Regions from separate parts of the Homo sapiens genome. Here regions 2 and 3 are each linked to region 1. The links come from fine-mapping of genetic effects on gene expression. A gene starts in region 1. Each other region holds a variant in brackets. All regions are shown on one strand. Distances are between the middles of the regions. Region 1 holds the start of CCNY (cyclin Y). Region 2 overlaps CCNY (cyclin Y). Region 3 holds the start of LOC107984221 (a long non-coding RNA gene).

What was found.
Region 2: its variant is fine-mapped to the expression of CCNY in whole blood (TOPMed, PIP 0.99).
Region 3: its variant is fine-mapped to the expression of CCNY in whole blood (INTERVAL, PIP 0.92).

The regions. Positions count from the first base shown.
Region 1 is chr10:35,331,398-35,339,745 of GRCh38, forward strand. It overlaps CCNY (cyclin Y), which reads left to right and starts at 5,112. Exons shown (of 10, transcript NM_145012.6): 1 at 5,112-5,810. The coding sequence starts at 5,657. It overlaps CCNY-AS1 (CCNY antisense RNA 1), which reads right to left and starts at 5,027. Exons shown (of 4, transcript NR_186477.1): 1 at 4,823-5,027; 2 at 4,531-4,679. RefSeq lists an enhancer at 844-1,138 and a silencer at 4,738-5,477.
Region 2 is chr10:35,558,273-35,566,620 of GRCh38, forward strand. It overlaps CCNY (cyclin Y), which reads left to right. Exons shown (of 10, transcript NM_145012.6): 9 at 7,751-7,913. Among named protein-coding and RNA genes, the nearest start is that of GJD4, 43 kb to the right of the region's middle. RefSeq lists enhancers at 6,150-6,259, 6,320-6,429, 6,700-6,779. The variant TA/T (reference allele first, on the strand shown) is at 4,606.
Region 3 is chr10:35,577,156-35,585,503 of GRCh38, forward strand. LOC107984221 (a long non-coding RNA gene) reads left to right here and starts at 4,292. Exons shown (of 3, transcript XR_001747422.2): 1 at 4,292-4,697; 2 at 6,427-6,547; 3 at 6,880-8,348. The variant A/T (reference allele first, on the strand shown) is at 5,083.

The DNA of each region.
Region 1 (8,348 bases):
AAGGCCATTTAGTCTGGGGACAAATGGTGAACTTGCAGTGGTGAGGTAGATAAATCAGTTTCCAAGTGGGCTTTCTCCCAGATGCCAGAGACCCTGGCTGTCCCTGTTTCATCATGCATTCCATCAACAAATGATTTACTTAGGAAAAAATATGGGGCACAAGTGCTACCCTCCCTCACTCGTTCCCTCATGGTGGCTCCCTTCTCGGCTAAGCTGGAACATGACCTCAGAATCCTCAACACAACGTCCCTGGCAGTTACTCTGGTCCAAAAGACTTGACACTACTACTTAAAACTATTAGCCATCCTTATTTCTTGTGGGAATTTTTATTTGGACGCACAATTTCTGGGTAGTTTCTAATTTCATATAAATATATTTCTCATGGTGGAATTTTAGGTATATGCCCAGGCGATAAATGTAGGTATTTATAGGCGGCAGGCTTTGCATTTCTCAGATTTCACCACTCAGTGGCTGTAATCACTCTCATTGCTGGAAACTTGTTCTTGTGATTGTTTAACTTACTGGACTGTGAGTTTCTCCAGAATGGAAACTATAATCCACTTTCGTATCCTCAAGGTGCCTGGCTCAGTATACTCTCAAAAATGTTATCCAGAAATGAGTCACCTGACTTGATCAAGGTCAAGTGGCTATCAAAGTAAATACTTCCCCTGTAGCTGGTTACACTGTGGACTGCCTACTACCAAGGACAAAAGGCAGGCCTCATTTGGAGAGGAGGTCGGTGACAGGAGGAGCATCAGTAGCACAACACACAGAATGTCTTGGTTATTTCACAACTGCCTTATAAATGCTCGAGTAACCGTCATGAGAAACTGACTACCAGGTGAAAGGGCAGCCATACTCTGAGGAGACACTACAGATTTTCCTTTCCACAAAAGGTTCAGGTCCTGGGCTAACTTGGCTCAGTGTTTTCTGTGTTCCAGAAGGTGACTCAGGGAGTTGTGCAAATGACTGACTCATATTTCATGGATACGAGTATGGCTGATGTAAGACTGCAGTTATCTCCTCCTGATTCAATTAAGGTAGACTATTCTTGATTGTTTTTATCAGTAGATCTATAAATTATACAAGTTGATACTAATATTGCTTATGTTTTAAATAGTGTGGTTCCACAGAAAATTTTGTTTTTTCTGTGAGAAACAAAGCTACTATTGCTAAAAAAGTGTCAAGAGCACTGACTTAGCTATAGTTCATCTGAGTTTTTTTTGAGACGGAGTCTTGCTCTGTCACCCAGGCTGGAGTGCAGTGGCACGATCTCGGCTCACTGCAACCTCCACCTCCCGGGTTCACACCATTCTCCTGCCTCAGCCTCCCGAGCAGCTGGAGCTATAGGCGCCCACCACCACGCCTGGCTAATTTTTTGTATTTTTAATAGAGACAGGGTTTCACTGTGTTAGCCAGGATGGTCTTGATCTCCTGACCTCGTGATCCACTCACCTCAGCCTCCCAAACTGCTGGGATTACAGGTGTGAACCACCGCGCCCGGCCCACCTGAGTTTTATATTTACCTGGTTACAGTGACCAAATTCTTCAACAGTGATCATGGAGAAAGATGAGACAAAATAATTCCCAAATGATTCTTTCTGCTCAAAGACCAGGGTGGGTATGAGTAGATCCAGGTCAATTTTTTTTTTCTTTTAAGAGACAGGGTCTCACTCTGTCACCTAGGCTGGGGTACAGTGGTACAATCATAGCTCACTGCAGCCTCCTACTCCCAGACTCAAGCCATCTTCCTAATCCTCCTCAAGCTTGAGGACAGGCCTTGTTACAATGCTCAGTGTGTACCTCTCCCCTTCTCCACTCCCCTTGTCCACATTCTGGGCTAGATCCACACTCTATTGAGGAACTGTCTCTGTATTTTGATTCCCGAGTGACACAGTGTTGGAGATCCTGTGGCTAGATACACAGGTTATTTCTGCATATGGCTACTCCTCAACCTTGTTGCCTGTCTTACTCTGGTCTGAGAGCTGAACCCCACAGAAATAACAAGGCTCCCCTCATCCCTTTCTCTGAAAGATTAGTACTAGTCCTAAGTGGTTAGCTCCCAGCTTCCTTTAGGACAGAAAAAAGAGAAGGAGAGAAGTGACACTTGTTTTTTTACTCACAAAGTCTTGGAGATAGGAGGTAGGAGGTTGGGGTGGATGTAGCTTGGACTTTGGAATTAGAACCAGGTTCAAATCCCCAATTAGGACATTTCTCAGTATTTTGATCTTAGATAGGTTTACTTATCAAAGTGTCTATTTATAAAATGGGGTATAACTTAATCAGATTTAGATGTAAGAAATAGTATAGTGCATGGCAGCTAGCAGGCTTTCAACGAACGACATCTCTCATTACTATCATTTTGACATCACATTTATCTGCTCAGAGTTGGTTACTGTTCTGCAATTTTTCCCAAAGTGTCACTGTGTGTCAGGCAGGGAGTATCTGCCTGGAGGAGTTTGAAGTATGCATGTAGGGTGGATGAGTTGTGGGGGTCGGCACCCAGGTAAATCACTAGCGAGGCTTTAGTACCCGTCTTTTCTCTCCAGGATTCTTGACCAAAAGTTACACTCTAAATTAAAGTCCAAACAGGTACATACCTAAGGGGAATATGGTGGAAATGTCAAAGAGGAGATAGGGAAAGAGGGGGAGGGGGGCGGGGCACAAAAATCCTGGCAGACCAGAGGCTGTACCACCCTTTGTTAAGGGTATGTGGCTACACTGATCTCTCATCCTCCAGATGCTCTTCCCAGTTAACACTGCCCAGTGACCTTCTTGGACAGGAAGCATGCAGCCAGCCATGCTGTCACCTTAGTGCCACTGTCTCTTTCTCCTCTTAAGCCCTTCAAACCATAATTTGAATGTAAATGTTATACATTTTATAATGAAATAAAAATAGCTTAATGCATCTGAGTAGATATGCCACACACCTATGGTCCAATGACTGGATGCTGACTTTCATATGTGGCCCAAATTACAAAGCAGCAATCAGAACAGACAACAACAGACAACAAGGGAACTTCTCTCCCACGGGTTCAGCAATCTGACCCAAACTCCATAGCCCCAGACAATCTGAATACACACATGCAAGTGTAAATATGCCCCAGTTTTCCCAGGAAGCAGGAAAATCTACACAGCCTCAATGAAGAGCACTATTTTGGACTGTTGTTGTCTACCCACCCTCTCCAGGGCTTTAATTCTTTAGAACTTCCCTTTTACACTTCTTTTCTCATCTGGTCAGCATTACCACTTTGCAGCCACTTATTTTCCATGGACATCTGCCACTTATCCTAACAAATAGCATTAATACAGTTGAGAGCATGGAGCGTTTAAAATATGGACTAATAAATGTATAAACAGTACTTTGAGAGGGAGGGAAAGCACAGGTTAAAAAATGGCTAGATGTAGAGAATTAAATGAAATGTTTATAAAGCCGTTCACACGATGTCCACACATTGCTGATGCTAGATAAATATCAAGTCCCTTATTCCTTCTCTTACCTTTTAGTAACTGGATTTGTCACGAACAGGTACTGAGGTCTGCATAAATCAAGGCATGATTTCATCTCTGGGCCTCAGTTTCCTCATATATAAAATTAAGACAGTTGTACTATTGTACTAGTTTTTTTTTCAAGAACTAGTTCAAAAACATTCCCAGCTCCCACCCCCACCCCCCCACCCCACAAGACTCTCCTCAAGACTCCTTCAGTAAATATTTGGAAAAAGGGTGGGAAGTTTGTTTCTGCCACCTTATATTCTTCCCAATAAAGGCAAGAAAAGTCAGGGATGGCTGGCATTGTGGGCGTCGGGAGGGAATGCGAACCAACATTTACTCTACTTCTCTCCCAGCCAGGCATGTTCACATACCTTGATCTTAGTCAACTGGCCTAAGTTAACTTGTTCCCAACATGACAAAACCCGATGGCATTCTAAAAGCAAAGCAAAGCAAAGCAAGGGCAGTCGATGAGTTGTGTTAACTTAGTTTTCTATCTCATGTTAACCTCCAAGGAACTCAAAACAACTCCACAGCGAATTCAATATTAAAATAGCTCTGGGACCCCAAGATTTATTTCACAGCTTAAAGCAAGGTCACTATCAAGTCCTCGGCAAAGCTCAAAATACAATAGAAAACTCCCAAATCAAGCCCCAGCTTATTTAAATGCTTAGAAAAAAAAAATAGCCAGGTGCCGTGGCTCATGCCCGTAATCCCATGGGAGGAGTCCAGACGGGAGGATTCCTTGAAGACAGGAGTTCGATACCAGCCCGGGTTACGAAGCGAGATCCCATCTCTACAAAAAGTTAACACACACACACACACACATTCACCACCTTAGCCTGGCTTAGTGGCGGGCGCCCGTGTTACAAAGGGAGATCCCATCTCTACAAAAAGTTAACACACATACACACCCTACCTTAGCCTGGCGTAGTGGCGGGAGCCTGTAGTCCTCGCTACTTTGGAGACACACACACACACACACACCCGTAGTCCTCGCTACTTTGGAGACACACACACACACACACACACACACACCTTAGCCAGGCGTGGTGGCGCGCGCCTGTAGTACCGGCTACTTTGGAGGCTGAGGCGGGAGAATCGCTTCAGCCTAGGAGTTCGAGGCTGCAGTGAGCCGAGATTGCGCCACTGCCCTCCAGCCTGGGCGACAGAGCGAAATCATACCTCTAAAAAAATAAATTAGAAAAATAAAAAGACAAAAAGAGCCAGCCCGGTTTCGGAGAGGCAGGTGCAGCCTCAGCGCCCTGGGCCTGCGTCCCCGACCGGGCCCTGGCTGCGCTCCCGCCCGCTGCGGGCCCCGGGGACGCACCTCGCATCCCGCGCTGGGCCCCGTTCCGTCCAGCCCGGGGGAGTGGAGGAGGCAGAGGCCGGGTGGGGAAGGGCCTCCAGAAACCGAGCTCCCGACGACGTCTCCCGCGACCCCAGTGCCCGAGAGAGGAGCGGCCCCCGGGAGCGATCCCACAACCGCGCGGGGCTGCGCCGCCCCGAACCTCCCCGCGGCCGCCGATCTGCTTCCAGGGCAGAGGGAAGGGGCGGTGACGGGGCGGGGCGGGGGCTGCGGCGAGGGCGGGCGCCGCTGGCGAGGGAGGGCCGCCAGCATCCTCCCTGGCCGCGCCGCACCGCGCCGCGAGGAGTCCGGGGGCTGCGCCCACGCCCGCTGCCCGCCCGCTCGTCGGCTAGTCCCGCCGTCCGGCGCGGACACGCGTGCCCCCGGCTTGAACCGGAACCTCTTGCCGAGGCGGCCGCCGTCGCCGCAGCCGCCGGGGAAGCGGACACCAACTGGGGAAGCGCGGGGGGGAGGCGGCCTGCGCGGCGCCGCCCGCCATGGCCGCGGCGGGGTGAGGTAGGCGCGGCGGCCGCAGTCGCGCGGACCCGAGCGCTCCTCCGCCGCGGATAGGCCGGCCGAGGGGGAGCCGGGGCCGTCGCCCGCTCGTCGCCGCCGCCGCCGCCGCCGCCCATGGCGAGGCCCCGCCGCCGCCGCCGCTGCTGACCCGGCGGCCGGCCGCCGTTCCGCCCCCTCCCGTGGCGGCGAGCGGGCGGGCCTCCCCACACGCCCCCGCCGCCCGCGCCCCGCGTCCACCCGCGCCCCGCTCCCGGGGACTGGGAGAACAGGATAGCAGCAGGAGTCGGGGGGCCGCCGAAGATGGGGAACACTACCTCGTGCTGCGTGTCGTCCAGTCCCAAGCTCCGGAGGAATGCCCACTCCCGGCTGGAGTCCTACCGGCCAGACACGGACCTGAGCCGCGAGGACACGGGCTGCAACCTGCAGCACATCAGCGACCGGGAGAACATAGACGGTGAGTGCGGCCCGCCGAGCCCCCTACCCGCCCCCGCGGCAACAGTCGCACAGCCAACGTCGGGGCGGCCCGGCTGCTCTTGCTTGCCCAGCCGGTCTCGGCGACCCGTGCATAACCGGGGCTTCGCCCGCGCAGCCTAGGCGCCCGGGGCCCCGCAGCCTCTGGGCGTACCCCTCGCTGGTTACCCCCAAGTGAGCGGCCGCGGAAACTTTGCAGGCCCGCGGCATCGAGCACGGCGGGCCTAGGGCGGGTGTGTGCGCGTGGGTCGCGAGGTGACAGGAGCCGGCCCTCGTCCTTAATGGAGCGGCCAGAGCTGGGTGGGGGCGGCCCGGGAGCTCGGGGTTCCCGGCACTACCTGAATGCAGCCCGAAGCCAAGTTGTGCACGCGTTTGTCCTATAAAAGCGAAGTGAGTGGATTCCCATTTTGGAATCCCGGTGTCTCCAACCTCGAGTTGGAGAACCATGTTGAGTCAGTTCCCCGGAACCTTACAAATGGACTCCACTTCCCCCGTTCCCATTCTACCGTTTTTTTTAAAAAATGATTTTTTTGAGTGGCGGTTCCAGGATTAGTCAAATAGCTTCTCCCGAGAATGCTCTTTAAAAGATTGTCAGACACCTTTGGGTTAAGTCTCAGTTTTTGCATGGGCCCGAATTGCAGTCCTATGAATTTCTGATTTATTCAGGTGACTTTTGGTTGGTCTGGAGTTTGCAAAAAGAAAAAAAGCTAAGACTAATTACTGCACGCAGTAATGTTTTATTTATTTTATTGGTTTGGCAACATATTTATTAGCACTGTTGCTCAGTGATAACGACAGAGGGATATTTATGCATCATGCTTAAAATATAGTTTATAGAATTTTCAACTGAAAAGATTTGAAATTGGAAGTATCTTTTTATGACAAGGTGATTTTTTTAACCCAAACATCTTCTCATAGTTAATCTGGTTGAACTAATATGAAGAAATTTTTGTGTGAATGAATGAACACAACTTCATAATTCGTTCCTGTCCACTTTAGGATGGAAGATTCTCTCCACTGTGGAAAGGCCACATTTAAACTTTGCTAAAGGAAAGATTTTTCTCGTTTGTCTTCGTGTAATTTCTTCTAAATGGTAGTTTAATCTTTTTAGGAGAGCATCTTTATTAAATGAGTGCCATGTATAAAGGGAGTAACACAACGTCTGGTTTCTAGTACGCGCTTAGTAAATTATGGTTCCATATGACGTGTCTAGTGTTGTTATTTTAGATTTCCATTATTTTAAACATACGCTTAGATGTCTTTGAACTACAGCCATACTTTCTTCTTAAATTTATGCATTTAAAGGCATCTAGAAGGATGAAGGCCAGATCGGTCTTGATCACTTTCACAGCCTCTAGCACCTGAAAGAAAAGTCTAGCATATAATAAACAGTAAGTATTGTACTTTAAAGGGAGGAATAAATGAATGAGTTTATTACAGAAAGCCATTACCCAGTCCTATACTATGTTGACAGGCGAAAACATTTGGAAATAATGTCTTCTTTATGATGTGCAGTAAATTTCCTTTTTATGTTGTGCAGTATCTAGCGGAGGCTTTGTTTTGAATGATGGATCAAAAAAGAAAAAAAAGAAGATTTACATTTCTTAGAGCCAGGCTGCATACAGTTATTATAGACTATTGTAAGGAAATAAGGTGGAAAAAATAAGTGTAACCAGGTATTTGGCACTAAGGCTCAGTACAATTTTGCCAGAGTACAGTGAAATGATATTGTGTGTTCTTTCATTTCAAAGAAATCTTAAGTTTCAGTCATCAGGAATTTTTGAGAGAATGTTTGGAAGACTCTTTTGCAGATTCAGGATAGTTTGAGAGAGTATAGGGCAGGTTTCCAATCTAGGCTGTGGAGTGCCCTCTCATCCCAGATCCCAGTTCATATGATTATGCTAGTTTAAACCCCGAAATATTAATTCACCTTCTGTCTCTCAAATTCAATAAATAATACTTCTAGCATTGACCCAGCCAGCAGTTCTCAACATTGGTTTCAGTTAAACCAGAAATCTAGTACTGGACATTGCCATTAATATGTTTAAATCTCTCCAAGGTGATTCTGAGATGCAGGTAGGCCTGAGAATTGCTGGCTGGGCAAATCTTGGAAGTGTTACCTGCCGTTCAGGGACATTTTTGGTAGAAATTCATTATTAGAGGCTGAGAGAAGAGAACAGGTTTTAATTAAATAGAGTGTATATATATACACACTATATACATCTATATGTCTGTATTTGCTCATCTATATCTGTATGTATTTGAACTGAGTTATATTGATTGTTAGGTTATTAGTAAACATTTTAAAACTACATTTTAAGAATCATTGACTCTAGTATATATCAAAAGCTGAAGTACTCAAATACCATATTTTTTATGTCCTGAAAAACATCCCACCCAGCTGGTTTAGAAAGGTTTGAAGTTCATGGGTCTTCTATGATAGGTTAGTGTCTTTAAATCACAGAGATATGACATATGTATCCATGCTTTCTTCCCTTTGTCACCAGGCACATGAAGGGGT
Region 2 (8,348 bases), 230 kb after region 1:
GGTAGGAGAAGAGCAACTGGGAAAGAAGAAGCCAGAAGGAGAACCTGCACACACAGATTTGTTCTCCAGCAAGTCAGTTTTAGGAGAGTGAAATGAAAGTTACAGATCTAGAAATCTCTTTCCTAATGCTGTGTTCTCAAGCATGCTTAGAGACACTTTCTGTACTATAAATTGAATGCATATCCCAGCTTGAAGTCCAGAGTCCCGCTGAGTCCTGTAACAGATGCTATTCATGACATGGGCTGAATTGTCTCCTCTAAAATAGATGTGTGAAGTCCTAACCCCCAGACCCTCAGAATGTGACCATATTTGGAGATATATTTTTTAAAGAGGAAATTAAATTAAAATGGGGTCATTAGGGTGGGCCCTAATCCAGTATGTCTGATGTCCTCATAAGAAGAGATTAGGACACAGACAACACAGAGGGATGGCCATGTGAGGACACAGAGAAGGTAGCGTCTGCAAGCCAAGGAGAGAGGTCTCGGAAGAAACCAACCCCACTAACACCTTGATCTTGGACTAGTAGCCTCTAGAATTGTGAGAAAATAAATTTCTGTTGTTGAAGCCACCCAGTCTGTGGGACTTTGTTACCTGTGCTAGTCTGTAGCCCTAGCCAACTAATACAGATTTTGGTACTGGGAAGTGAGGTGCTGCTGTAGCAAATACCTAAAAATGTGGAAGTGGCTTTGAAAGTTGGTAAGGAATAGAGGCAGGAGGAGTTTTGAGGTGCATATTAGAAAAACCCAAGACTGCCTTGAAGGGATTGTTGGTAGAAATGTGGGCATTAAAGGTGATTCTGGTGAAGACTCAGAAAAGAGGACAGCTGTAGAAAATGCCTCTACCATTTTAGATGCATTCACATGTCATCATGAACAGAATGTTGTTGGCAATATGAATGTCCAAGGTGCTTATGGTGAGGTCTCAGAAAGAAGTGAGGAGCATGTTCCTGGGAGCTGGAGGAAAGGTGATCCTTGTTAAAAAGTGGCAAAGACCTGACCAAATAGCGTTCTAGTGTTTTGTGGAAAGTGGAATGTTTAAGAAATGAATGTGGATGTTTTAGCCAAGGAGATTTCCATGCACAGTGTGGAAGTCACAGCCTAGTCCCTCTTGTTGCTCGTAGTATACTGTGAGAGGAGAGAGAGAAACAGAAGGAGGAGGAATTATTTAGTAACAAGGAACCAAATCTTCTAGCTGAAGATTTAGAAATCTCAAATCTTCTAATCTCAGTCTATCCATATGGCAAAAAAATGGGAAAGTGTGCTCTGGAGGCAACACAAGGGTGCTGGGACAGCATTTGCTAAAGAGATTACAGATGTGACAGATGGATCCAGTCAGCCAGCCATCTCAGCAGAAGCGCTGCCGGCTTGCACCAAAGGGCCCAGAGACAGGACAGGTGAAGCAAGGCTGTCGTACTCTGGCATTCCACGGGCCAGCAGAACTGTCTGGCATGACTTGTGATATCCTCCAAGGAAAGGGGTGAATGATCCTGAGATGGTACCGAGGCCAGCAGGTCTGCCACTGCCACCATGGGCCCAGCAGGCACAGCCTGGAGTGAGGCTGTTTCCTCCTTGGCTCCAGGGGGTTAGGCCAAGGCAGGGCTGCCTACCTGGGGGTGGGTGATGGCGCATCAGCAGAGAGGACTTAAGTCTTCAATCCCTGGAGCTTGCCCTGCTAGATTTCGGGCTTGCTGGACACTGTGACCTCTTTCTTTCTGAGTTTTCTTTCTTTTGGAAGGAAAGGGGATGCCTGTCCTATGTCTGTCCTATGCCTGTGCCACCATTGTATTTTAGAAGCAGGTCACTGGGTCACAGCTGGAGAGGAATTTTGCCTTAGGATGAATCATACCTCAATCTTCACCCATACCTGATTCAGATGAGATTTAGATAGGATTTGGGACTTAGAGATGGAGCGGGAATGCATTAGGACTTTGGGGCTGTTAGGATGAGGTGAGTGTGTTCTGCATGTAAGATGGACATGAATTCTGAAGGGCACGAAGGCAGTGTTGCGGGGCTGAACTTTGTCCCCCTCAAATTCACATGCAAAGCCCTCCCAACCCCTAGTGTTTGAGAATGTAACCATGTCTGGAGATAAGGTTTTTAAAGACCTAATTAAATTAACATTGGTTCATTTGGGTGGGTCCTAACCTAATATGACAGGTGTCCTATAAGAAGAAGAGATCAGAACACAGGGAACAGACAGAAGGATGAGCATGTGAGACTCAGACAGCCACCTGCAAGCTACGGAGAGCAGCCTCAGGAGATACCAGTCTGCTGACAGCTTGGACTTACAGCCACAAACTGTGGGGAAAAAATTCCCGTTGTTTAAGCCCCTAGCATTTTCATTACAGCAGCTCTTGCAAACTAATACACCCTGTAAACTTTATTAAAAGAAGGAATGAAATCTACATTCTAGGAGCTGCTGGAGATATCTGTGGACATAGATGCTGGTGGAGCTAGAGGCTCCAAGTGATTTTGTGGCACCTGCACAGTAAAATAGATTTACTATTAGAATTTTTAGAAATGAATACTTCATTCAGTCTTTCCCAGTAAAACCGTGTGAGCCCAGGAATTGGTGGAATTGGACATCACTCAGCTGAATGGCTGAGGGAAAATCATGACTCCTCGGTAGCCCTTTATGGGGAGAGGAGGTAGCACAAGGCTCACTGGAAGCTGGGGGCCCTGCACCAAGGTAAAGATGAGCAGAGGCACTGCCGGTGAGTTTTCCCAGCATAACTTCAGGAATAGAGCTGAGATGACACAGCCTGTAGAACAGGGGCCTGGACAGCCACCCAAGCTGCACTCCCTACCTGCAGTACCTTAGATGAACAATGGGTTCCTTCCACAAATCCCACTTGGGTGTCCCAGAATGAGGGAGGTGCGTGCCAGGAGCTTGTCCTTCTTGGCACGCTGTGGAAGTCCCCAAGATCCTAGAATCCTCTTTTTCATCCCCAAGTGGGAAAAGAGTCAGTGGCTTGGGCCTGAGGGTGGGGTGGGAGGCGTTTGGGCAGGAGAAGTCTCAGATATCCTGGGGTGGGCTCCATCCTATCAAGGGCTGCCCTGCTGCATTTTTCTATAATCCCATCACTCAGAAAGAATATTGCTAACATTTTTATTATATAGAACTTCCCAGTGTTTACATAGATTTTATTTTTACAAAACTGGGCCCATACTGTACGCGTTGTTTTAAACTTTTTGCCATTTAGCAGTGTGTTAATCTGTGGTTAGCTGGTCTCAGTTTCCTGGCAGAGGCAAACAACCCGAGCTCTCCCTTGGAGCTCCTGAGCAGGGAGAGGGCTCACAGGTTTCAGCTGGAAACCTTTTCAAATGGGGTTTTTGGTAGTGCTTGTTCTTCTAGGTACCCTTCTTCCTGGCCTCCTGTGTCCCAGCTTCCTGAAGTGACCTTCCTGGTATTTTTGACCATAGGCTAATCTCCTGCTCAAGAATTATCCAACAGTGAGAACTTGACTGGGAGTCTCCCCATGTACCTTTGGACAGAGGGGTTCTGGCTTGGAAGGCAGCTGACTGTGCAGCTGCGTATCTGTGGGCGCAGGCTGAAGAACACTGTACGACGAGTGTCACTGAGACTTGCAGGCAGAATAGTCAGGGCACCAGGCCATGTGGATAGTCACCAGCACCAGTCAGATGTTAGCTTCAGGCAGACCTCATGTGGGAAGATGGGGCCAAGGGCCAGCCTTTCTCCCACTCTCACCAACAATCAGTGGTCACAGCATCACAGGCCAGCTTAGAGCAAGAAGTGGCAACCGCTGTGGATGGGGAAAGGACAGTGAAATTTCACCATGCAGAGTTCTGTAGGCAAAAATACTGTTAAAAAAAATTACACCTCGAGGTTTGTCTGTTTCTTGTTTTTGTTTTGCACTGTTCCCGTAAATGTCATTTTCATGTGTAGACAAATCCAAATAAGGAGAAATCAAGTGACTTGTCCAAGCATTGCATGGCACAGAAGGTCACAGAGAAAGAACTTCAGTTCCTCTGTAGATACCTGGTTTCTGGTGGTGTTTTGTTTTTAAATTGTAGTAAAATGTATGTAGCATGAAATTTATGATTGTAGCCATTTTTAAGTATACATTTCTGTAGCACTAAGTACATTTACATTGTTGTGCAACCATTACCACCATCCATCTCTAGAACCCTTCATTTTCGCAAACTGAAACTCTCCCCCTGTTAAACACTAACTTGCCATTCCTCCTTCCTCCAGCTCCTGGTGATCACTGTCCTACTTTTTGTCTCTGTGAACTTCACTACTTTCAGGACCTCACACAAGTGGGATCATACAGTCTGTGTCCTTCTGTGTCCAGCATATTTCACTTGCCAATAATGTCCTCAGGGTTGATCCATGTTGTAGTGTGTCTGAATTTCCTTTCTTTTTAGGGCTGTATAATACTTCACTGGGGGTCTGTGTCCCATTTTGTTTATCCACTCATCCACCCATGGACACTTGGGTTACCTCCACATTGGGCTAGTAAGTGGAGGCTGTAAGTGTGGCTATGCAGATACCTTTTCAAGACTTTGTTTCTCCTTCTTTTGGGAAGTGACCCTAGTTTCTAGAAAAGTAGGCAGCATATTAGATGATTAAAACAGCTCTTTT[TA/T]ACATCATTTTAGAGTTCTATTTTCAAGTTGCTGAATTGTACCAAATTGGGTTTTTATACAGTGTTGATCTAGTGTGACAAATATTTCTGAAATGTGGTTTTTGTTGGTCGACTTGAATATATTTCTTACAACGTTTTACACCAAAACTGTTTCTTCATAGTTATCTAAATGCAGATAGTAAATCCATCAGGCCCATTCTTGGCATCACGTTAGTTTTCTGATAATTTATCACATAGCAAGCTGTCAGTGTCCCTGTAAAAGATGTGCTGCTGCAGTTTGGAAATTCAAGTTTTGGAAATTATTTTTATTTTCTAAATCTTTAGAAAAAAATTCATTTTTTGAAAATACAACAGCTCTAAAATCTATTTTCCCAAAGCTTAACCAGAAACTCAAGCTTGGAGAAGGTTGTTCTGTTTTCCAGGGAACCCTGGGAAAATACCGCCTTGTTCAAAAGCAGCTTCCTCTTGACTTTGCTCGTAGTGTCTGCCTCCATCTGGAACCATGGTGTCTGTATATCATTTTGGGCAGGATTATCAGGCTGTTCTCTTAGACTTTTCTTCTTACTATTGGGAGAATACGCTTTGCAGTGACGCCTGTTGACCACCAGACGGCGGTGTGTCCATGGCAGCTCCCAGGTTCACTTGGGATTTGCTCCTTTGACGTTTGACAGTTCTGGCCTTAGCAGGGCCTCTGACGCTTTCGTTTTGTTGAAGTCTTACCTGGATTCCAGTATTTCACAGGATGATCTCTTATTAAATCTCATTTAAATGAAGCATAAATAAAAGTTGTTTTAAGTAAAAATTATCCCAAATCAAAGTAAATTATTATTTATTTATTTATTTTTGGGACAGAGTTTCGCTCTCGTTGCCCAGGCTGGAGTGCAGTGGGGCAATCTCGGCTCACTGCAACTTCCGCCTCCTGGGTTCAAGTGATTCTCCTGCCTCACCCTCCTGAGTAGCTGGGATATTAGAGGTGCCCACCACCATGCCTGACTAATTTTTTTTTTTTTTTTTTGAGACAGAGTTTCGCTCTTGTAGTCCAGGCTGGAGTGCAATGGCGCAATCTTGGCTCGCTTCAACCTCCACCTCCCGGGTTCAAGTGATTCCCCTGCCTCAGCCTCCTGAGTAGCTTGAATTATAGGCATGTGCCACCATGCCCGGCTAATTTTCTTTGTATTTTTAGTAGAGACGAGGTTTCACCCTGTTGGCCAGGCTGGTCTCAAACTCCTAAACTCAGGTGATCCACCCGCCTCAGCCTCCCAAAGTGCTGAGATTACAGGTGTGAGTGACCACACCCAGCCTAAATTCTTAAAACTATGAAATTTAGTACAGTAAATACATTTGGAGCTTGTTATCACTCTTTTCACGAGGCTGTGTGGAAACAAGCAGTGACGCTCTTCATCTGATGAAGAGACCGGAATGGGCCTTCCTCGGGCCTCCTTCCTTGCCGCCTGCCCACAGGTCCCAGTGCTCCTTTCCCCAGCAGCTTCATGTCTCCCCAGAGCCACTGGCCTTGCTCAGCCCCAGCCTCCCCACCCGCCTCCTTACTGTTCTTGTCCTTTGTCACAGCAACTTGAGCTGGTGTGGAGCCCTCCTCAGTCCTTCATAGCTGAGTGCTATGAGTCACCGGGAACAGCCATAGGGGTCTCGGGACATCACTCAGGACAGGATGGTGCCTGCATGTGAGGCTCAGACCCAGACCCTCAGCGTTCAGCAGAGTTGGCAGGACATGACTTAGAATGCCGAGGCTGGGATCAGGGTCAGGAGGGTGAGGCCCTGCACTAGGGCCCTGGCTTCACTCACAGGAAATGGTGACTGTGTGTTTTGGCTGCCTGCAGCAGGTTGGAGGGGACCCACTCTGCCTGAAACACCCCCTCCTCAGCCCTGGTTCCTCTCCGCCAGAGCTCCATGCTTCCCTCACCTCAGTTCAGCTCTCACTGCTGTGGGAAGCCTTCTGAGATCATGTGCTGGGGGCCAGGCATGCAAAAGCAGATGTTGCACTTCCTGACTATGAGGAGAACAGCCCAAGAGGCTGAGTTCAGCAGCCACATGCTGCATAGTGTGGGCAAGGACAGGAGGTTTCCTGGAGGGTGTGCAGTGGGTGGGCACCCTGTGGGTGGGCACCCCTGGGGGCTTCCTGGGGAGAACGTGCTGAATCTGAGTGCATGACCCAGGACCAGTGCTCCACAGATAGTTCCCTCACTGAGAAGGTTCCCCCCACCCAGAGGAACTATCTAGAAATAAACCTAATTTGAAAGATAGCTGACATGAGAAGTTCTTAAAGTAGAAGTTTTTGAATTTCTCCCAGCATTCCATCAACATGTAGATGGGTTGGCAGGGTGGATCTTAGCACCTCCTCTCCCAACCTACCTTTTTAGTTGAGTGGTTCTCAGAGTGTGGGCCCGGGGCAAGAGCCTCAGCCTCACCATCATCTGGGAGTTCCTTAGAAATGCACATTCTCAGGCCCCACTGCAGACCTACTGATCCCCACAGTGTGAAGGTGGAGCCCCCTGTCTGTTCTAACAAGCCCACCAGGTGATGGGGTGCGTGCTCAAGTGTGGAAACTACTGCTTCCATTCTTCCCGGCTTGTGAGTTCTCTTTTTAAGAGACTGAGGCAGAGACTGGACACCCTCCCCCCATAATCCCTGCCTTTTGCCTAAGAAAGCCCCTACACAGTTCCTCCCTTCTTTTCTCCCTGGAGGTAGGGAGGGGCCACCGAGGAAGCCAATGTCCTCTAGGTCTGCAGAGGCTGAGTGTTTTCCTCTGGGCCCCTGCGGAAGGGCCCTCACTGGACTCCACGTGGCAGCTCTTGGCTGCTGCATCCACCCTTTGTTAGCAGCCTGTCCTCACGGAGACCTGCAGCCAGAGCCTGCTGTGTGTGTGTTAGATCTCAGTGAAGTGATTCGCCCTGAAACGCTTCCTGGTGATGATCCCAGTTAACCAGTCCTCATCCTTCTGGGCACCAGATCAAGTGGATTTGGCTTTTAATCCCAATATGGTGGTCTAACCAGACATTTACTTAGATCACTGGTCTTCCTGGAGGATGCAGTTTTCTGGAGTCTGGTCTCCAGCAACTTGCCTTGGCAGGCCACGTGGCCTGGTGTGGCAGCTAAGCATAGGCTATTTTTGTCTTTGCTTTGCAGGAACGAGCTAGAGCGACAGTTTCTTGAATTGCTGCAGTTCAACATCAATGTTCCTTCCAGTGTCTATGCCAAGTATTATTTTGATCTTCGTTCTCTGGCAGAAGCGAACAACCTGAGCTTTCCCTTGGAGCCCCTGAGCAGGGAGAGGGCTCACAAGCTTGAGGTAAGATGGTTTAAAACAGCGTTTTGTGGTGCAGTGTTGCCAATACATCATCTGAGTACCAGAGATGCATGTGGTCACATTGATCATTTCCCCCACTACATGATGTAAAATAAAGATGAGCTACTAGGATATATAGCTGGGCAGTTGATTATGATTTGTTCTGCTTCTTTTTTCTTTGAGACGGAGTCTCGCTCTGTCACCCAGCCTGGAGTACAGTGGTGCGATCTTGGCCCATTGCAGTCTCTGCCTCCCGAGTTAAAGCAATTCTGCTTCAGCCTCTCAAGTAGCTGGGATTACAGGTGCCTGCCACCACACCCGGTTGATTTTTTGTATTTTTAGTAGAGATGGGGTTTCACAATGTTGGCCAGGCTGGTCTCAAACTCCTGACCTCAGGTGATCTGCCTGCCTTGGCCTCCCAAAGTGCTGGGATTACAG
Region 3 (8,348 bases), 250 kb after region 1:
TAAGGAGAGGGGAGTCGGCAGACACAGGGACAACACGCTGTGGAGGTGAAGGCAAAGGTTGGAATGATGCAGCCGCAAGCCAAGGAACGCCAAGGTTGGCCAGGGCCAGCAGAAGCTGGAAGAGGCAAGGAAGAATCCTTCTCTGGAGTTTCCAGAGCATATGGCCCTGCTGGCACCTTGATTTTGGACTTCCAGCCCCCAAAACAGTGACAGAATAAATTTCTGTTGTTGTGAGCCATCCAGCATGTGGAAATTTGTTATGGCAGCCCTAGGAAACCGACACAGGTGCAATTCCTAAATAGAGAAAATGCCGGCCGGGCGCAGTGGCTCACACCTGTAATCCCAGCACTTTGGGAGGCCAAGGTGGGCAGATCACTTGAGGTCAGGAGTTCGAGGCCAGCCCGACCAACATGGTGAAACCCCATCTCTATTAAAAATACAAAAAGTTAGCTGAGCATGGTGGTGCACACCTGTAATCCCAGCTACTTGGGAGGCTGAGGCAGGTGAATTACTTGGACCCAGGAGGCAGAGGTTGCAGTGAGCCAATATCACACCACTGTACTCCAGCCTGGCCACAGAGCAAGACTCCATCTCAAAAAGAAAATGCCAAACTTTGCCGGCAGTCATCACGAAAGACCTGAACGAAAGAGACGTGCCATGTTCCTGAGTGGGAAATCACAGGACCTGACAAATGTCACATCTCTCGTTCCTACTCTCCCTTTTGTCTAGTGTGTTCTCTAAGTATACCAAGTTCTGTTTCGATTCAGGAACTTTTTCTGCATTGTTGTTTCTGTCTGGCGTGCTTCCCCCTGATACCTGCATTGCTCACTCTTCTCACTATCTGCTGTTTTTCTTGTTCACTTGATTATTGTCTGGTGTGGCATTTTTCCGGAAACAAAGCACTGATCTCATATTTGGAGGACTTCCAATTGTGAAAGCTTTCTTCTGCAACTCCCTGTTGTAGGTAGAACAGATGTTCTATCCCCATCGCTTTTCAGTAGAGCTGAGGGCAGTGTTAGAGAAAGAGCAGTCTCAGCAGAGATGCGTATCCAAATATGGGAGACTCTGGCCGTCAACTAAGGAAGTTTGAACAGTGTCATTCAGTCTACAAATATGTGCCTTAAACGTAACATTTTTCCAGAAACACAGTACTGATCTCATATTTTGAGGTACTTCCAATTTTCAAAGCTTTCTTCTTCATCTCCTCTGTGACTCCCTGATGTAGGTAGAACAGACGTCTGCTTCAATGCCATGTCCTTACAGGCCTCCTCTCACCACAGCCCACCCCCCAGGGAAGGGCCCTCCTTGTTGCTCTTGTGTTGCCCAACCATAAGCCTTGCCTGGCTCTCCCCACTGTCTGCTGTTTTTCTTGTTCACTTGATTATTGTCTGGTGTGGCATTTTCCCAGAAACAAAGCACTGATCTCATATTTGGAGGTACTTCCAATTTTCAAAGCTTTCTCCTGCAACTCCCTGATGTAGGTAGAACAGCTGTTCTGTCCCCATCGCTTTTCAGTAGAGCTGAAGTGCAGAAAGGCTAAGTGACTTGTCAAGGTCGCGTCATCAGCAACCAAACAGATCTTGCAGTTAATCTACAGCTACCCCTACAACCACAGAGCGTGGCAAGCCCTCCTGCCCCTAGAATGCTGACTCAGGAGGCAGGAGCCTTGTATGACCCATTCCCTGCTGAACCCCAGGACCCAATACATGCCAGCCCTGTCCAGTGAGTGAGTGGATGGGGTGAGGCACAGGTCCAGAAGATCAGGACAGGGATCAAGCCATAGTCACATCTTGAGCAAAAGGAGGAAAGCTGGAGGTATAGAAATGTAGATAAAGTGGTTCTTGAACATCATTTCTTCCTGCAGGCACTCATGGGTTCTACAGTCATTTATCTCGTGTTCAGTAACCTTGAAGCTAATGTGGTTGCTACCAAGAAAACCTAAAAGAAACACCTGGAAAACTATCAGAATTCATCACACCTGTGAGAATGGTATGGAGAAAAGGGAGCCCCTTTGCACTGCTGTTGCAAAGGCGAATTATTACAGCCATTCTAGAAGACAATATGGAGGCTCCTAAAAAGACTAAAAATAGAATTGCCATATGATCCGGCAATCCCACTTCTGGCTATATATCCAGAGGAATCGAAATCAGTGTGCTGGAGAGACAGCTGCACTCCCATTAAAACACTGTTCACAATAGCCCAGACAGGGAGGCAACCTAGGTGTCCATCACTATGTGAAATAAGCCAGGCACAGAAACAAATATCCAATCATTTCACTTACATGTAGAATCTAAAAAAAGCTGAACTCAGAAGTAGAGTAGAGTGGTGATTATCAGAGGATAGGAAAGGAGGAGGATGAACAAAGGGGAGTGCTGCACCAATGGGTACAAAGTTTCACTTAGGAGGAGTAAGATCTAGTGATCTATTGAACGAACAGCTACCATCATAAATGCATTGTGTATTCCAAAGTTGTAGATTTCAGTTGTTTTCACCACACACAAAAATAAGTACGTGAAGTGATGGATTTGCTCAGTAGCTTGATTTAATCATTCCACAATGTAGAACATGTATCAGAACATATTGTACCCCATAAATATATACAATTGTTTTTCAATTAAAAATAAAAAGTAGAGCTATGAGGCGGCTTCAGGAAAGAGGCAGAGCTTGAACTGGTTGTGTTGTAGAATCTGGATATGTAGAAAGGAAAGGAATTCCAGCAGGAAGCACATGAACCAAGAGTCCGGAGCCCACCCACTCAGCATTGCCGAGGACAGTGTTAGGGAAAGAGCAGTCTTAGTAGAGATGCGTGTCACAAATACAGGAGACTCTGGCCGTCAACTAAGGAAGTGTGTACAGTGTCATTCGGTCTACAAATATGTACTTTAAATGTAACATTTTTCCAGAAACATAGTATTGATCTCATATTTTGAGGCACTTCCAATTTTCAAAGCTTTCTTCTTCATCTCCTCTGCGACTCCCTGATGTAGGTAGAACAGATGTTCTATCCCCATCGCTTTTCAGATAGAGCCGAAGTGCAGAAAGGCTAGGTGACTTGGCAAAGGTCACGTCATCAGCAACCAAACAGGACTTGCAGTTAATCTACAGCTGCCCCTAAACAGAGCGTGGCAGGCCACACCTGTCACATCAATCTCCATGCACGTCTTTGGAGAAGAGACAGCTGCAACATTTTAGCTTTAAAAAGTACTTAGCAAATAATGCACCTACAAGCAAGAATGGTGTCTGGGGATCCTGTTATTTTTATTGTTGCTGGATATAGAACCCACACAGATGGTAAGTCTGGCTTATTAATGGCATTTTGCAGAAATCTATGTGTTACTATTTCAGAATTGCTGCCTGGCCCCCAGGTGACATCCCCTTCCCGCCAGGTCTCAGTTTAAGAGCTTCAGAGAATCTGGAAACTCAGGGATTTCATGCATGGTCACCACCTGTCCCCTCTCTGAGGCCGTGGCCCCTACTTTAGCAGGTTCTGCTGGACTAGAGTTTTATTTTTCTGAGCTTGCAATTTCTCATTTTGAGGTTTGAGGTGCTTTTTCCATCTCAAAACCTGCCCAGCCCGTGACTTTCATTGAATGTCTCAGTATGGATTTCCTCATTGCTCATGTCTTATCTCAAAAGTTGTGTCTTCATTGGCCTTTTCTGGGTAGCTCATCTAAAGTAGCACCAGTCCCTCTGTCTCACCCCATAATGGCTCACCGTCAGCCCTCCTGATTCAATTTCTTTGGCAGCATGTCATTTTCTGGTGGTACCCTGCTTATTCCTTACAATCTAAGTTGTGTGCCTCCCATCAAAGGCAGAGCCTACCCTTCCCCATTTGGAACAGAATGCCGACTTCCTTGCTTGCTAAGCAGGAGACAGTCTCTGAGCAAAGGGAAGAGCTGATCTCACACAGGGCCTTGGAAAGCATGAAGTTCAGGGATTTCAGTGCCCAGAGCATTTAGGGATTGGTTGGCATTTGCCTGCGTCAGTGTGGTTACTTAAGACTTGCGGATTGCCTGCCCTTGGCTGCTGATGTGAAATCCTCGTTGATCAAGGAGAATGGGTTTTAAACTGGTTCTGATGGTCACTTGTTTCTATGGCCAAATAACCAGCCAACATGGTGAAACCCCGTCTCTCCTAAAAATACAAAAATTAGCTGGGTGTGGTGGCGGGCACCTGTAATCCCAGCTACTTGGGGGGCTGAGGCAGGAGAATGGCTTGAACCAGGGAGGCGGAGGTTGCAGTGAGCTGAGATTGAGCCATTGCACTCCAGCCTGGGAGACAGAGCAAGACTCCATCTCAATACAAACAAACAAACAAAAAAACTAATGGAGGAGTGGCCCCAGCTTCTCCTGTGGTGGATGGGGCTGTGAAACGTTAACTTGGAAGGACTGCTGAAAGATGGATGTTACTCTGTTAATGGAGAGGGCAGAACTAGAGCCAGGAATCAGTAAAAGTTTCTGAGACATGGATTTCTGCTCAGTATAAGGAAGACCCTTTAAGAGTTACAGTCGTGCAGAGGTAGAAATGGCCAGGGGCCACCTTCTCATGGTGTTAACCAGTCGTTATCGTTGTCCACTTCCAGCAGCACAGGCCTGTCATACAATGAGCTCCTCCGTGGAACCCCAGTATACACAGGTCAGAGGCATGCAGATCTGTGTCAGTGGAAGAAACTGTGGAGAGCCAGTTCCAGCCACATGGTAACCCCTGACACACCCTGACCAGACTTTACGATTCTAAGAAACAAATGCAAGAACCACTCATTACATTATTTAAAAATTCCTGCCGTTATTCTGTGCAGTGGGCATCTGCATTTCCCACTTTTCAGCTGAAAGGACTTAGGGGAAGAGAAAGTAACTTGAGGGTGGCAGAGCCAGGATTAGAACCCATGCTGGTCTGATTCTGAAGTCACACTCACAATCACACTACCCTATTACCTCCCAGTGGAGTGAAATGAGATGGTCCATTGTTAAAAAGAGGTCTGGGGGGCCGGGCATGGTGGTTCATGCTTGTAATCCCAGCACTTTGGGAGGCCAAGGTGGGCGGATCACAAGGTCAGGAGATTGAGACCATCCTGGCTAACAC[A/T]GTGAAACCCTGTGTCTACTAAAAATACAAAAAATTAGCCGGGCATGGTGGTGGGTGCCTGTAGTCCCAGCTACTCGGGAAGCTGAGGCGGGAGAATGGTGTGAACCCGGGAGGCGGAGCTTGCAGTGAGCCAAGATCATGCCACTGCACTCCAGCCTGGGCGACACAGCAAGACTCTGTCTCAAAAAAAAAAAAAAAAAAAAAAAAAAAAAATCTTTGGGAGAAAGAACAAACTCCATGTGATTTCTTAGATTTTCAGATTCTATCTATTAATTTTGCTTCCCTAGAAATCTTAGTGACTTATTTATTGATGACAGAGATGAATCAAGAAAATATTGCTTTAGAGACAGGTGGATCACCTGAAGTCAGGAGTTCGAGACCAGCCTGGTCAACATGGTGAAACCCCATCTCTACTAAAAATACAAAAATTAGTGGGGTGCGGTGGTGGGCACCTGTAAGCCCAGCTACCAGGGAGGCTGAAGCAGGAGAATGGCTTGAACCTGGGAGGTGGAGGTTGCAGTGGGCTGAGATCACGCCACTACACTCTAGCCTGGGTGACAGAGTGAGACTGAAAAAAAAAAAAAAGAAAGAATATACTGCTTTAAAAAAATCTTGTGAGTGCAAATTCCTTGCTTGAAAGGAATGAAGGACATATAAAAGGATTTTTCCACTAGTCACTGGACTATTTATTAGAGAACCTAGTACTAAATACCCATTAAAATATTTTCCTATCCATTGCCCCATTAGGTGTCTGGTTTGTTAATCCACAGTGCCTTCTTCATCCTTGACTTCATGCTCCAATAAATGGGACTTTGAAAGGCCCACCAGTTGGTAGTGGACAAGGCATTTTGCACATAAAATTGTACATTTGTGGGTGCTTGAGGTTTTTTTGTTGACATCTTTTTCTTTTGAGACAGGGTCTCTCTCTGTCACCCAGGCTGGAATGCAGGGCTTACTGCAGCCTTGACTTCCCAGGCTTGAGCGATCCTCCCTCCTCAGCCCCGCCCCGCAAGTAGCTGGGACTACAGGCATGTGCCACCACGACTGGCTAATTTGTTTGAATATTAGTAGAGACAGGATCTTGCTATGCTGGAGGCTGGTCTCCAATTCCTGAGTTCAAGCAATCCTCCCATCTTGGCCTCCCAAAGTGCTAGGATTACAGACATGAGCCACCGTGCTTAGCTGGTGCTTGAGGTTTTTAGGTCCAATTACAACATTTCATCTTTTTACTCACTAGTCAGCAGCAGAGATTGCTCACAAGAGAGTATACTGAAGTTCTGTATTTTATTAGATTGCTCACAAGAGAGTATACTGAAGTTCTGTATTTTATTATCTCCACTACAGGACCTTTACTTTTGCAAATTGCTTGACGTATTCCTCCCTGAAACTTTTGTAACGCTATAATTGTGTCACAAATATAAGCTCCAAGGACTCTGCTACAATAAAAACATTTAATGTGAACAAGGTAAGACAGGCTCTAAATCTTCCCCATGCCATTTTCATTTCCCCGGGCCTGTTTTTTTTACTTCACAGAGAATACAAATTTGGCCCACAGGAAAAATACATCCATGGGACCCAATCAGCCTAATTCAGTGCAACACCAACCTCATTCTGCTACTTTCCCTGATCAGGGATGGCCTTTATGCAGCTTCCCCTGAATGTCAATGATCAATCTCTTTGAACCAAATCCTGGGGAAATTTGAACGTCTCTAGCTGTTGAAATATCTTTGATTTTGTGAATAATATTTTCATATACTTATGCATCTTGTTCTCTGTGTAATCTGTTATAAAAATTAGAAGAGTCTCGGTATTCAATGACATGAAGACGTCTTTCCCAATCACATTCTGCCTGTACATGAAACTTGTCAGAGTAAACAAGTTGAGTTGACGGACAACCGGGTGCCCCTACGGAAACGTACTGGCAATCAGGCCTGTGAGCAGGAAAATGTCCTGAAATAACCGGAGCAACTGGGCACAGCGCACAACTTCCCAGCATTGCAGTTTATTGTTTTAGAGCCCGAGCCCCAGGCGGGATGCTCAGGACCTGCATTCCTTGGCGATTGGGGGAGATGGTAGAATGTTACAGATGAGGGTGCTTTACATGAGCTCACTCATTTGTGAGAGTCAACTCACTGTGGATTCAGGAGGTCTGAATGATTCCAGCCCTCTGGCTTTTCTTGGAGGAAGCCAACCCAGGCAAACCAATTGCCACCCACGGAGGATGGCTCTTCACCAAAACCCAGGAGGGCCCAGGCCCGAAGACTAGATTGCTCCAGCTTCCTATGGCAGAAAGAGGATGATAAAAATAGTTGATGTAGCAACCTGTCGTGCTGCCCAAGGTGCGTAACCTCATGCTTGTTTGGAAAGACTTGAACAGGTAGCTGAGGGTGCAAACAGGGCAGCTGCATTTGGAGAGAAGAGGATGAAAGAGGAATGAAGGGAGGCGGTGGGACCGGAAAATCAAAGGTGTGGAAAAGATGTGTTATGGTGGGTTAGGTTAATGGACATCTCCACTTCAACAAGACCTTCCACAAAAAAGCTGACACCTCGTGAGAAATCAAGGTCCCACTGCATCTGCAAGAAGGGAAGTTGCGTTTGGTGAGAGCCTGTGATACAAGTGATAAAGATGGAAGCTTACCTTTGAAGAACCACGAAATGCCTCCAATGGACAGGTCATTAAACAGCAGTTCATCTACTCGAGTATTTCCAGGGCTTTGTCTCTAGCTCAGGCTGTCCTCACATCCGTCTGTCAGACACCTCTACTTGACGGAGGCCACCCTTCCTCCCACTCCCTGGCCCTGTGTCCCACACCTGTCCCTTCTTAATGAGGGACCCCATCTGCCTGGGTGCCTGGGCCAGGAGGCTCCCTCCCCTTGGGTTGTCTCCACCCTCACTCATGCCCATCGCTCTGGACTTGGCCTCCTCAGAACCCCCGGGTTCCATCCCTGGCAGCCTGAGGGGCACTCACCTCCACCGCTGCCGCCTTCTGGGTCCTTCTCTTCACAACAGGTGATGCCATCTTCCTCAAATGCAGATCCGACTGTGTCACCTCCAATGGAGACCTTCAGTGACTTTCCATTGTCGATCGGGTAGAACCCACACTGTCCCAGGACCAAACAGGGCCCTGCTTCCACCCTCACCTTGTTCCCGCCCAGGCTTTGTTTGTCCTGCATTGCACACAGTGCCCGGTACCCCGCAGGTTCACTCCCAGCTTTAGGGCATTGCATGTGCTGCTTCCTGCCCATCACAGCCTGGCGACCCTCGCA